Linked DNA regions of Homo sapiens. The protein of the gene in region 1 purifies or fractionates together with the protein of each later gene. This does not show direct contact. Each region holds a gene or a part of one and is shown on either strand. Other genes may lie near its edges.

The links. The genes of interacting proteins can lie anywhere in the genome.
Region 2: the proteins of ARHGAP12 (region 1) and ASAP1 purify together in Homo sapiens (co-immunoprecipitation; 3 studies listed by BioGRID and IntAct, with this or other methods). This does not show direct contact.
Region 3: the proteins of ARHGAP12 (region 1) and CYFIP2 purify together in Homo sapiens (affinity purification with mass spectrometry; one large-scale study listed by BioGRID and IntAct). This does not show direct contact.
Region 4: the proteins of ARHGAP12 (region 1) and CYFIP1 purify together in Homo sapiens (affinity purification with mass spectrometry; 2 studies listed by BioGRID and IntAct, with this or other methods). This does not show direct contact.

Annotation. Positions count from the first base shown.
Region 1 is NC_000010.11:31,918,832-31,922,331, forward strand, and holds part of ARHGAP12 (rho GTPase-activating protein 12), read right to left. Parts: intron 1-3,500. UniProt on the Homo sapiens protein: GTPase activator for the Rho-type GTPases by converting them to an inactive GDP-bound state.
Region 2 is NC_000008.11:130,055,675-130,059,174, forward strand, and holds part of ASAP1 (arf-GAP with SH3 domain, ANK repeat and PH domain-containing protein 1), read right to left. Parts: intron 2,403-3,500; coding exon 2,280-2,402; intron 1-2,279. UniProt on the Homo sapiens protein: Possesses phosphatidylinositol 4,5-bisphosphate-dependent GTPase-activating protein activity for ARF1 (ADP ribosylation factor 1) and ARF5 and a lesser activity towards ARF6.
Region 3 is NC_000005.10:157,269,123-157,272,622, reverse strand, and holds part of CYFIP2 (cytoplasmic FMR1-interacting protein 2), read right to left. Parts: intron 3,300-3,500; exon of another isoform or gene 3,040-3,299; intron 1-3,039. UniProt on the Homo sapiens protein: Involved in T-cell adhesion and p53/TP53-dependent induction of apoptosis. Does not bind RNA. As component of the WAVE1 complex, required for BDNF-NTRK2 endocytic trafficking and signaling from early endosomes.
Region 4 is NC_000015.10:22,914,369-22,917,868, reverse strand, and holds part of CYFIP1 (cytoplasmic FMR1-interacting protein 1), read left to right. Parts: coding exon 1-81; intron 82-555; exon of another isoform or gene 556-857; coding exon of another isoform or gene 858-1,238; coding exon 1,239-1,392; intron 1,393-2,986; coding exon 2,987-3,143; intron 3,144-3,500. UniProt on the Homo sapiens protein: Component of the CYFIP1-EIF4E-FMR1 complex which binds to the mRNA cap and mediates translational repression. In the CYFIP1-EIF4E-FMR1 complex this subunit is an adapter between EIF4E and FMR1.

The DNA of each region.
Region 1 (3,500 bases):
TCAAGGAAACTGAAAATACAATTACCACATTATCCAGCAATTCCACTTCTGGGTATACACCCACAAGAATTGAAAGCAGAAAGTCAAACAGATATTTGTATATCCATGTTCACAGCAGCATTAATCACAATAGTCAAAAAGTGGAAGCAAACTAAATATCCATCAATGGACGAATAAACAAAATGTGATACATACATAAAATATTATTCAGCCTTAAAAAGGAAGGAAATTCTGACAGTACAATGTGAATGAACTCTGAAGACTATTTATGCTTAGGGAAATCGCCAGTCACAAAGGGCAAACATTATATGATTTCATGTATATAAGGTACCTAGAGTAGTCAAATTCATAAAGACAGAAAGCAGAATGGTGGTTACCAAGGGATGGAGAAAGACAGCAACAGGAAGTTACTGCTTAATGGGTATGGAGTTTCAGTTTAGAAAGATGAAAAAGTTCTGGAGATGAAGGGTGGTGATGGCTGGACAACAAAGTTAATTTATTTGATGCCACAGAACTGTGCACTCAAAAATGGTTAAAACAGTAAATTTCATGTTATATATATTTCACTAAAGACACTGTAGTATACAATTTAAATCACCTTATACCCATCTACTCAAAAGCCACAAGTAACTAAAATCCTCATGAAGCTCTTACAAATCCTCTTTAAAAGTAGATATAGGGCCAGGCGCGGTGGCTCACGCCTGTAATCCCAGCACTTTGGGAGGCTGAGGTGGGCGGATCACAAGGTCAGGAGATCAAGACCATCCTGGCTCCCACGGTGAAACCGTCTCTACTAAAAATGCAAAAAAATTAGCTGGGCATGGTGGTGGGTACCTGTAGTCCCAGCTACTCAGGAGGCTGAGGCAGGAGAATGGTGTGAACCAGGGAGGTGGAGCTTCCAGTGAGCCGAGATCGCACCACTGCACCTCCAGCCTGGGCAACACAGCAAGACTCCATTTCAAAAAAAAAAACAAAACCAAAAAAAACAAAAAACAAGTAAATATTGGCCAGGCACGGTGGCTCACGCCAGTCATCCCAGCACTTTGGGAGGATGAGGTGGGTGGATCACGAGGTAGGAGTTCAAGAACAGCCTGACCAACATGGTGAAACCCCATCTCTACTAAAAATACAAAAATTAGCTGGCCATGGTGGCATGCCTGTAATCCCAGCTACTCAAGGCAGGAGAATCGCTTGAACCTGGGAGGCGGAGGTTGCAGTGAGCCGAGATCGCGCAACTGCACTCCAGCCTGGGTGACAGAGCAAGACTCTGTCTCAAAAAAAAAAAAAAGTAAATACTAAAAAGCAAACAAACATTCAAACTCTTAGAAAACTGAAAATTAGCCGGGCGCAGTGGCTCACACCTGTAATCCCAGCACTCTGGGAGGCAGAGGTGGGCGGATCACAAGGTCGGCAGTTCCAGACCAGCCTGACCAACATGGTGAAACCTCACTCTACTAAAAATACAGAAATTAGCCAGGCGTGGTGGTGGGTGCCTGTAATCCCAGCTACTAGGGAGGCTGAGGCAGGAGAATCGCTTGAACCCAGGAGGCAGAGGTTGCAGTGAGCCAAGACTGCACCACTGCACTCCAGCCTAGGCGACAGAGTGAGACTCCGTCTCAAAAAAAAAAAAAAAAAAAAAAGAAAACTGAAAAGTAGCACTTACGCAGCATACAAATGATGAACTATTACCAATCCCTCAGCACATTTTGTCATCTACTGGAAAAAAAAAATCCACGATTTGTAAGTTTTATTCAAATTGATTTTAACAAGAATAAAAATCAATAATGTAAACTAAAGCCCAAATTAGGTATCACTACACATCAACTACAATAAAGTTTTTGTTTTTGTTTTTGTTTTAAAAAAGACAATAACAGTGCTGGCAAGTATTCCAGAAACTAGAGTATTTACATAGTGTTAGTGAGAGTGCTAAATAGCACAGCCAGTTTAGTAGTTTCTTACAAACCTAAGTTCCTGTATACCACATTCTCGGCCATGGAACAAGCCTCAATAAACTGAAAAGAACTGAAATTATGCAAAGTATGTTCTCCAATCACAATAAAATTAAATTAGAAACTCTCAAAAAGTATCTTAAAAACCCCAAAATTGTTTTTGGAATCTAAGCAACACACTTCTAAATGAGTCAGGAGTCAAAAGACAAAATCAGGCTGGACAAGGTGGCTCACGCGTGTAATCCCAGCTCTTTGGGAGTCGGAGGTGGGAGGATCACTTGAGGCCAAGAGTTCAAGACCAGCCTGGTGAGTTTTGAACTCCTGGTGAGACCCCGTCTCTACAAAAACTAAAAAAACTAGCCGGGCATGGTGATATGCACCTGTAGTCCCAGCTACTAAGGGAGGCTGAGGTAAGAGGATTACAGGAGCCCAGGAAGTCAAGGCTGCAGTTTGTGACACTGCACTTCAGCCTTGGTGAGAGTGAAACAACGTCTCAAAAAAAGAAAAAAGAAACCAAACAGGAAATGTGTACTGAATGAAAATGAAAACATGTAATTTCAAAATTTGTGGGATACAGCTGAAGTAGTGCTCAGACAAAACTTACAGCACTAAATGCCAGAAAAAACACAAAGTCTCACATCAATGACATAAGCTTCCACTCTAAGAAGGTAAAGAGGAGCAAATTAAATCCAAAGTTTGTAGAGGTCGGGCGCGGTAGCTCATGCCTGTAATCCCAGCACTTTGGGAGGCAGAGTCGGGCGGATAATGAGGTCAGGAGTTCGATACCAGCCTGACCAACATGGTGAAACCCCGTCTCTACCAAAAATACAAAAATGAGCTGGGCATGGTGGTGCATGCCTGTAATCCCAGCTACTGGGGAGGCTGAGGCAGGAGAATGGCTTGAACCCTGGGGACAGAGGTTGCAGTGAGCCGAGATTGTGCCACTGCATTCCAGCCTGGGTGACAGAGCAAGGCTCCATCTCAAAAAAAAAAAAAAAAAAAAAAAAAAAGTTTGTAGAAGAAAAGATATGAAAAAGATGAGAGCAGAAAGCAATAAAAAGAAAACAGAAAAATGTTAGAGAAAAATCAATGAAACCAGAGCCTGGTTCTTTAAGAGCAGTAAAACTGTCCAGGTGCAATGGCTCACACCTATAATCCCAGCACTTTGGGAAGCCAAGGCAGGCAGATCATCTGAGCTTAGAAGTTCAATGCCACCCTGGGCAACGTGGTGAAACCCCATATCTACCAAAAATACAAAAAATTAGCCGGGTGTGGTTGGCATGTGCCTGTGGTCCCAGCTACTCAGGAGGCTGAGGCTTGTGTCCAGGAGGCAAAGGCTGCAGCGAGCTGAGATCATGCCATTGCACTCCAGCCTGGGAGACAGAGCAAGACCCTGCCTCAAAAAAAAAAAAAAAAAAAAAAAAAAAAAAAAAAAAAAGCACAGATCAGTAAAACTGACAATCCTCTAGCCAAACTAATGGGAACAAAAGAGAAAAGAAACAAATTATCAAAAAGGTAACCAGAGACATAACTACAGATCCTGAAGACATC
Region 2 (3,500 bases), on another chromosome or scaffold:
TGTAAAAATTTTCTAATTACCTCAATTAGATTAGTATTGATTGCACTAAAGAGAATCATGTAATGGGCCTTCAATAGAAAAAACAAAATCGTGCATATTGGCTTCCAATGCCAAATCGATAGAGAGGAAGGTGGTTTTAAGAGTGGAACAGAGTCAACCAGGCCTGCCCAGCTCTCCTGAAGGCTTGCCCACCCACCGCGTGTGGTCTTAGTTGGCATCATGCATGTGTGAGGTCTTTGTGAATTTCACATCACAGTTAGCATGTGTGTGTGGCACCATCTTTACATCTGGCGAGGCACGTAATGGTGGCACACACAATGTCCCCTAGGAATGATGCTAGGGACACCAATGACAGCTTCCCATTCCCCGCAGGTATCTCTGCTGTAGTCATCAGTTGCTTAGCAAAGAACATGATCACTGCTTGATTATAATAATATTAACAGATTACAAAGTGAGTTCCTCAACATCCTTGTGAGAAACGATTAATCATGTCCTATTTTTCAGAGGAAAGTGAGGCTTACAGAAGGGACATGCTTTATCCAAGGCCCATAGAGCTAGTAACTGATTCACGTGGGGGGGCTTCAGAGCCCACCTCCTCGTCATGAGATGAAGTGGACTCTCTGACAGGCTTCATGCCAGGGGCTGGCCCCACTCTGCTGACAGAGGCTGGAGGTACCCCTGGGCCTCCCCAGGCTGATCCCTTCAGTCCAGTTTCTCAACCATGGTGCTACTGGCATCCTTGCTTGTGGGGGCTCCCTGAGTACTGGAGGATGTTTAGTGGCATCCCTGGCCACTAAACTTCCATCTACTAGTTGTTGGTAGCAACCCCCTTCCTAGGTCCTGACAATCAATATTTCCAGATATTGTAAATGTCCCTGGAGGGCAAAATTGCCCCAGTTGAGTCCAAACAAAATCCCTACAGCTGTGATTAAGAATCTGAGGTCACTGTCTAGGCCTGAAGGAAGAAAAGTCAAAGGTGAATGTGTGCCCATGCCTATGTGTGTGTGCACACATGTATATACATATGTATTTCTGGGTATTCTTAGGTACTGCTGGCTCAACTGCGAGCCTCAGGTCCCTTCCTGGCAGACAGAACTGAGTCCCTCTTGGCAGGACGGGGCTCAGGCTGCCAAGGAAGGGGAATTTTCACCCTGATGTCAGGAAATGATCAACAAGGAGAGCAGAAGAGGTGGCTTATTCACTGTACCTTGGCCTGGCAGTTCCCATCGGGAGACTTACTCCCTGGCAACGTGAAAACCAATAGATGTGTGGACTGCCCTCGCAGGTCACTCACAGCCTGGGTACCTAGCAGGGCCTATGAGGATGCTGATGTCTTTCCCTCCTGATGCCTGAGCTGCAGGTTTTAATGTAAAAGGAGTTTTCATAGATATTTTCATTTAATCTTTTCCTAAAATTACGTGGAGAAGGTGTCTTGGCCTATTTGACAAAGAAAGAACTGCAGACTGGATTAAGAATTGAGTCTGAGGACTTGTCAACTGCTCAGCCTGAGCAGGAACTTGGGCATTCTGATTCCCAGCCTGGGGACAGTGTGGAATGGTGAGCAAAGCACATAGGCTCTGGGGTCAGGGCCGATCTGGAATCTTGACTTAGCCTGCTTACTGGCTGAGGGACCACAGGCAACATGCTCAACTTTCTTCCGCTTTAGTATTTATATGAAAAATCAGAAAATGCCTACAACTCACAAGGTTACATGATACCATGGGTAAAGTACATACAAATGTTAATTCTCTTGACCTGTCTTCAAAGCCCCATGGCTGTTTTTCTTTTTTTTCAGATGGAGTCTCGCTCTGTTGCCCAGGCTGGAGTGTAGTGGTGTGATCTCATCTCACTGCAACCTGTGCCTCCCGGGTTCAAGCGATTCTCCTGCCTTGGCCTCCCGAGTAGCTGGGACTACAGGTGCGTGCCACCATGCCCAGTTAATTTTTTGTATTTTTAGTAGACACGGGGTTTCACCATGCTGGCCAGGCTGGTCTCGAACTCCCGACCTCGAGATCCATCCGCCTCAGCCTCCCAAAGTGCTGGGATTACAGGCGTGAGCCACTGTGCCCGGCCAGCTCCACGGCTGTTTTTCTAGCATGTAATAGTGTGTGACATAGAAAAGACACCAAATGCAATGGCTGTTGGGTGAGTGATGCAGCTGACAGGGTCCTTGTGCTCAAGAGCCCTCTTTTACTGCACTGTCTGTAGGCTCCAATGTGGTGCCTGCCCAGGCATGCTGTATGAATGTACGGATGAAGTGGATGGATATTCGTACGTACCCACCACTCCTGGTCCTCTTCCCCTGTGACGATAATCACTTCTCCCTCGATGAATGTGAGCTCGTCATCGTTGTCTGCCTGGCAGTCATAAATGGTCTTCACTCGCCTCACTTTATTTTTCCCCTTAAAGAAAGAAACTGGGTTTTAATTGAAAGAATGGACTGAATGGAAAAAAAGAGCAGCGGTTCTTTGTAAAATGGTTGACCTTGGCCAGTAACTTAACCTCGCTGAGCCTTGATTTCCTCACCCTTGAAGGGCGGGAAGAAGAGTGTCTGTCAGGCACCCAGCATACTGTGTACTCTTAACTACAGGCCCTTCCTCTCCCCCCATCATCAGGGTGGCCCTGCATTGGTGATTGGGCATCATCAAGTTATTTTCACCAGAAAGCAAACACTATGGGTAGGGATCAAAATTGAGCTTCACCAAAAACCATCAAGCACTCTGTACGCACCCCCAACCCACATCAGCTTGCAGAATGACAGCAGAGTCTAAAAATGTTTTTAGGAAACATGATGTAAAGCAAAATCTGCAGCTTCTGCATAATGAATGTGCAGCATAAACAAATTTGTCAGTCCCCTCATGCAAAACAGCAAGTCAGTACATGCTGGTTAAACACAGCAGGATCGGCCTGGGGCTCGGAGAAGTCTATGCAGTTCCTAAAACAGTTTTAATTTTTGATTAGTTTTGATTTGAGCATTTATTTGTTGAACTTCCAGTTCTTTGCAAATAGAAAAGTGAAAATAGAGGTATCACCTTCTAAATGATGGGTTTTTGTTTTGCACCTGGCTAATTGGCAATTTTAAAAAAAGCAAGCTGTCTCTTTAAATGTTTTGGGTGGAGTGCCTCTTCCTCTCTGTCCCCTGGTTTCTCCTTTAATCACCCTGATAGTTCCAGCTGCTTTCCGAGCTCCCTTCTGGGCCGTGCGGGTGGGTTGGAGAAGCCTGGCAGAACTGTGGCAGTGACTGCGTGAGCAACTGAGAGGCCTGTAGTGTGTTAATTTATAACACAGAGATTAAATGACATAATAAAACTATATAGTGTGTAGCATGAAATGAAAATTTTGCATCAGTGGTGCTTGGGAGTCATGGGAGAGTTCCCTTTTGAATAGCAGAAGTATCCACCATCAGACACGGCAGCCTCCAACCTACAGGAAGATGGGTTTTATTTTTCTTAATTTAAGTATTGATATGACACACTTTTACTGCAACATTTAAATTTTTT
Region 3 (3,500 bases), on another chromosome or scaffold:
AATAGACAACGTGCAGAATAGATAAATCGAGAAACAGCAGTGTAAGCATATCATTTAGAGATCTGGAGGCAGCTACTAGAAGAAACAGTGAGTTAAAAGTGGCAGCCTCTAGGGGAGGGTGGGTGCTGGATGGTTGTTTTTCATTATAAGGCTTTCAATACTATTTGATTTTTTAAAACATTTGTATATATCGTTTTGATCAAAATTTAATAATTTGCTTTAGAAGACAACCACCCAAAGTCTCCTTGTTAGCAGTTCAGACACCTGGCCGGTACCCAGCACTGACTGGCAAGGTGGTCTTTGTTGTTTCAGTCCCCTGCTCCTGTCCTCCGGGACCAGAGGCCCTATCACCTACAGCTTCTCTCCACACAGGGGACCTGCAGTCAGAGCCGAGAAATCAAGTCAGCCTCGACTTGGGCCACTGGAGAAGGCCTATCCTCCTCGTTGTTTATGAGTAGACTGAGTAGACAGAGAAAAAGATCTTGGTGGGGGCTAAAGGACTTTCCCCTTCGTTTGCCATTTTGCCCAGCTGCTTCCTGTGTTGTTAAGGTTGAGGTGGCCTTTGTGGTGACACCAAACCAGGCTACCAGCAGCTCAGGGGAACGGCCTCATGCTCTCAGGAGGGGAAGTCATGCCACCAAGGTGGCTTGCTGATTTGCTCCTGCTGGGGCCCTGGGGCTGTCATATGAGGAACACCAACATGACGCGTATGTGGGGAGAGGAGCTGCCTCTCAGATGCACCTGCTAAAACTCACAAGGGAAGCCATGCATCTGCTACGGAAACAAAGAGGAGGGCTTCAGGTCTGGCCACCAGATCGGAGCACGTGGAACTCAGCTCCATCGATGTGAAACCACAACTCGAACATGGCTCAGTATGAAGACAAAGGCCCCCAAATCACATTTTCACTCACTCTAAAAGGGCAAATTTCTCTGTCTGTAAAATGTGGAGGTTAGCCTTGGTTCTCTCTCAACCATGATGTCCAAACCTGCCTTGTGAAGGTTATTGCGGGTAACTTGTGCTAATAATAGCTTAAGCACTGAGGTTTGCAAACAAGGTACATTTTATTGTATGTGAGGCGAGGGTTCAAGATCTCTGTGTGATATTATTGCTTGCATGTTCATCTCTTCCCTTGAGTGGCAGGAATGGAGCAGAGTTGGGGGGTTGGCTGTGGGGGCTGATGTGTTCAGCATGTCAACATTGTCCATTTTGTGTACTAAAAAAACCACAACAGCAACCAGTTAAGAATCACTGGATTTGGGCCTCTCTCAGGACCCTCCCAACACTAAAGCAAATGACCATGACTACAGTTGAGACATTCCATCCAAAGGGCTTCCTTAAAGACATGTGTTAAGGATCATGCAGACCATTCTCTGTGGCCAAGGTATACAGGGCATAATAAACCTGTCCAAGGATACTCTTCCTTTGTGCCTTTGCTCAAACTGTCTCCACTCCCTTATGGACTGTCTTCTTCCCTTCTCAAATCTTACCGATCTATCATGGCCCACACGAAGACATGCCTTTTCCACAAAGGTCTGACCAGCCAAGCCCCTTAATGACCTTTATTTCTCTCACTCCCTTAGCACTCACAGTCTAGAGTCCACAGTTTTTAACTGCACGACAAACTGCTTTATATTTCACTAATTCTTTGGATTGCTAAGAATGCCAAGGATAGTCATCTTATCTGAGTTTGACCCATAGCAACCAGCACAGAGATAGGCACACACCAGGAATTACTTGCTTAATTAATACTTCATGAATGATTTGTTGACTGCATGAGCCAATGACCAAAATTCTTAACTTCTGGTTTAAAAAAATTAACAAGAAAGTTAAAATATCATGCTTCTCTAAGGTCCCATATCCAAGGCTGCCTTGTCAATATAAGAATCTGAGGAGAGTTCTTTAGAAAATCCTTCTGTCGTATAGTTTCCACTTCAAACCCTAAGAAGCAGGTCCTCATTTCTCTTTCCCATATGGAAGTATAACAGACTTGGAGATAGGGGGCTGACCTCTAGTTCTGAATTCTTATCTTGCCATTCATATCTTGCCAAAACAAATCTTAAAGCATCATATTTTAAAAGCACAAATCAAAAATAGTTCTCGGATATTCCTTAAGAGTTACTGCATGTCTTCTCTGAGGGTCAGCCCTGCAAATTCTCTTTGATCTCAGCCAGGCCTTCAGTGAAGTTAGACAATTCTCTCATTCTTCCCCAGTTTATTTCTTATTCCACCCACATAGGCAACTGTTCCAAACCCTGAAGTCTCCTGAAGTTTCCTAACCAGTCCATCACCTTTATTTCCTGCAGAGGACCTCACCTCCTGCCTTACTTAGAAAACAGAGAACATGGACAGACTAAACACACCTCTGTTTTACCTAGAGATTAAAGCCTAAGAACCATTGCTCTACAATGACCAAATAATGACGCAAACAGAATCAAAAGGTCTACTGATGAAGTCATCACTGGGTCTTTCTCAGGCATCTCGCAAGAAGGTCCTATTTACTTCCCTCTCTCACTGCCTGTATCTGAGTTGCCCAAAGTCTATCAAAATGCCACGCAACCAGAATGATCCCTGCAAGAAATTCTGCCTGAACTCAAGCTCTGCCTTCTCAAAACAATTTCTTTCAAGAATTTGCACCCTCTGTTGCCAGGGCCCAAGTATGGCTTAAATGGCTATTTTTTGAGGTACATCACACACAGCCCTTAGCATAATGCCCATGGCTAGAAAGCCAATATCTAAGCTCTTTGCATCCTGGGAGGCGTCCCATACCCACTGACTGAATTCTGAAGTGTCTTTGTACAGACAAGGCCATCCAGGGGCCTTGACAGAATCTGTGAATCACAAAGTGCCTTTAAGCTTCCCATTGGCTCAACAGTACAGAGAGGCCACAGATCCATCTTCTTAAAGTGACACACAATATATAATTAATAAATTGTTTCTTAAGGAATGGAGGGCATTTACCCAAAAGAGTCACACATTCAGGAGGCTCCTTCTCTATTTCCACGGCTTTTTTTTCTCAGACTGGGATTTACAGACATTACCTCATCCGCAGGCTTTCATGATGACAGGCAGGTAACAGTTGGGCAGGCTGCCTTCCATTGCTCAATTTTGAACGTCAGAGAGGTAGTGGCTGGTTTAAGGGCACACAGCAAGTCAGGGATCCTGTGTCCCATGCTCACTGTGCTGCTCTGTCTGCCCTGGAAGCAAAGCATGCCCTCAACATTTTTGGATGGTTGCAAAATGCTGAATTCTCACAGAGGAAGAGGCCCTTCCTTAACTCTACGTGTTGAAATGTGAGAATGGCCCTGGGCTTCTGCTTGGCTTGTTCCCTCCCACTTCTCCCTACCTACTCAGGTTCCACCCACCTCTCTTGTGCTACTTAAGAGCACTTCCCACCTGAAGCCTTTCACTTCATGCCCTATCACTCTTAACTTTCCCTTCCTTCGGCCGGTAAACTTGGGGCTGGGTTTACTGGTCACAGAGACCAACTTCCCTCAAAAAA
Region 4 (3,500 bases), on another chromosome or scaffold:
GCCTTGCGGGGCGAGAAGGACCCCAAGAGCGGCTTCGACATAAAAGTACCACGCCGCGCCGTGGGACCCTCCAGCACTCAGGTTCTCGTCCCTTGAGCCCCGCCTGCACCCTCTCCCTGGGGGGACCCACCCTGAGCTGTGAGCGGGTGGGGCTGGTGAGGCCCGGGTTAAATGAGGTCCTCGCTGCCTGCTCAGGCAGAGAAAGTGGCGCCTGTGGTTTCTGCTGCTCCTCTGTTTCCCACCCAAGTGAGTTGGGAGCGTGAGGAGACGTGCCTTGATTGTCAGATGTGTCATGTGCACTAAAAAGGAGTCTGACTCCATTTCAACTCCCATCCCAAAAATGTGGGCACAAGTCCACGTGTCTGTATTCATTCTGTGTTTCTTGATGGGTGTTTGAATGTCTGTATAATTTTTACGTTGGGTCTGCAAATGACTGTAGATGGGGCGTGGGAAACTGTGAGGTGCTGCTTGCGTGTGTCATGGTCCTAAGCTGCCCACTGTCCTCTCTCCTGGTGTGTTCAGGCCTCCCCGAGGTGCTTCTCACGACTTTCACACCCGGTTTAATCCACACCGCTGCGTCTGTCCTCCGTCCTGGGGCTGGTCTTCTCCCTCATCTCTGCCGGAGGCTTTTAATCTCTTCTGCCACTCTTCTGGAAAGTCACCAGCAATGCACGCTGCTGGCTCTGCAGGAGGGTCAGGGGGACGGCCCTCGGCCTGTGCGTGGTGCCAGCCACCCTCCCTGCCTCCCTCTGCGTGCGTCCCGTGTCCCTGCCTGGGGTGTGTGTGTCGAGTGACTAACGTCTCTCTCCTGCCTCTCCCTCCTGTCTGTCCGTGTCTAGCTCTACCTGGTGCGCACCATGGCCGAGTCCTTGGGCTCTGCCGAGCTGCTCAGGCAGCTCAAGTCTCTGGGCATGGAGAGGCTCTTGCATGCGGTTAACACGTTTCTGAGGCAGTCGTGCACCTACCTACCCCTTTTAACCTTTGGTGGTAAGACATCATTTGTTTCTCTTGACGTTTATGGCACGGAGGCGAACTGCTCCGCTACAAGTTGTTCTTTCCCCAAAGCAGCAGCAACGTGGCCGCGTAGACAGGCACCCGGACCCCTCGGGGAGCTGGTGCGGGGCCCTCCCGACCAGGGCGTAGCGGAGCAGTCCTTCTCTCATGGGCTTTTTGAGTTTGGCATAACTAATGTACCATGTATATTTTCTCCCCCACAAATGTTTCCTTGGATAATCCAGCTTTACATGGTGAGAACCATGCTAGAGTCCCTCATTGCAGACAAAAGTGGTTCCAAGAAAACCTTGAGAAGTAGCCTTGAGGGGCCCACCATATTGGACATAGAAAAATTTCATCGAGAGTCATTCTTCTACACTCACTTGATAAATTTCAGTGGTAAGAGATACTGCTGAGCAGCATCCGGCCTGGCATGTCCTAACACCACTAACACCGTCTAGAATGCTTCCGCCCGCCTGACCACCCCCTACCCCGTCCCTTGGTGCACCCAGACGGTGACTCGTCCTGCCCTCTGTGGCGGTGGCTGTACGTCCCTGGCCTGAGCTCGCTCCACAGGGCGTGGTCCCTACAAGGGTATAAACTGAGGAGCCCGGGCTGGCCCTGAGACATGAACAGAAAATCTTTTCAACCCATGCGGGGTTGGAAACAGGCGAATGTAATCTGGTGCCTGAGTTGAGACACAGGCATTGATAAATACTAGAAATGGCCCTTGCAGACCATGACGTGGGGGGAAGGTGGCGGGTGCCCTGTGCCAGGCAAGCCCATCCTGGGTGACACCCGGCCACCTTGACCGGCCACCGGTGGGTGCGCTCTCTGCCCTCCGTGTGTCTGTCCCGTGTTCTCATCAAGTCCTCCGTTGTCCACCTCTTGCTCAGAACAGGATCCCTGCTGTCTTGGCTGGGGTGCTGCGAGGTATTGGAGGAAATAGTACCACTTTTGCTGTTAACTCCATGAAAGGATGGAGTTCGAGTGTGGGCTCTTTTAATCTGTCTCATTTTTGCGTTAGACAGACCTCCCTGAGTGTGCCTCTAATGCTGCAGCCTGGACATTGGTTTTTATCCTAAGTGAAAGTGAAGAAGTCCTGTTTTTTTGTTTTGTTTTTTGTTGAGACGAAGTCTTGCTCTGTCACCCAGGCTAGAGTACAGTGGGGCGATCTCAGCTCACTGCAAGCTCCGCCTCCCAGGTTCAAGAGATTCTCCTCCCTCAGCCTCCCAAGTAGCTGGGATTATAGGTGCTCACCACTGCGCCTGGCTAATTTTTGTATTTTTAGTAGAGATGGGGTTTTACCATGTTGGCCAGGCTGGTCTCAAACTCCTGACCTTGTGATCCACCCGCCTCGGCCTCCCAAAGTGCTAGGATTACAGGCGTGAGCCACTGTGCCCAGCCAGAAGTCCTGTTTTTATGTCTCCTTTTGAGAAGAACATTTTTAGGTAAGACACAGTGGCTCATACCTGTTAATCCTAACACTTTGGGAAGCCAAGGCAGGAGAATCACTTGAATTCGGGAGTTTGAGACCAGCCTGGGCAACATGGCGAGACCCCCATCTCTATAAAAAATACAAAATCAGTTGGTGGCACGTGCCTGTGTTCTCAGCTACTTGGGAGGCTGAGGCAGGAGGATCGCTTGAGCCCAGGAGTTGAAGGCTGCAGTAAGCTATGATCGCGCCACTCACCTCCAGCCTGGGTGACAGAGTGAGATAGACTCTGTCTCAAAAAAAAAAAAAAGACACTTTCCCCCTGGATCCCACTGAAGGGCTCACAGGGTTGATGAGGTGGCTTTACCTGCAGCTATGCCCAGCTGGTCCTGTCCCTAGTGCAAGGCCCCGGTGACCCCTCCCCACTCATGTCCATGCTGCATGGCTTGGGGCTGAGCGAGGAGGAGCAGGCACCCAGCACACAGCCCTTGTGTCATCTCTGCTAAAGGTTTTTTTTTGCTTGCGGGAGATAACATGGAGTTGTTTGAACCCTCCCAGAAACGCTGCAGCAGTGCTGTGACCTTTCGCAGCTGTGGTTCCGAGAGTTCTTCCTGGAGCTGACCATGGGCAGGAGGATCCAGTTCCCCATTGAGATGTCGATGCCCTGGATCCTGACGGACCACATCCTGGAGACCAAGGAGGCATCGATGATGGAGTGCGTGTCCTGCGGGCCTGTCTCCAGCCTTTGTGTGTGGTGACCGGGGGTCCTCAGAGGAGGTGGCGGAGAGGCCGGGACTGTTTTTAGTATTGTATTTGAAATCAAGTTTCTGGGCCTGGGCAAAATAGCAAGACCCCAGTCTCTACAAAAATGAGAAAACTTAGCCTGGTGTGGTGGCTGATGCGGGAGGATTGCTTTACCACAGAAATTTGTGGCTGCATTGAGCTATGGATTGCACCACTGCATTCCAGCCTGGCCACGTAGCAAGACCCTGTCTCCAAATAAAAAAAAAAAAAAGAGAAATCATGTTTCCTGGGGTAAAGCTTTAGAGATTAATACAAGTAACTAACCAGT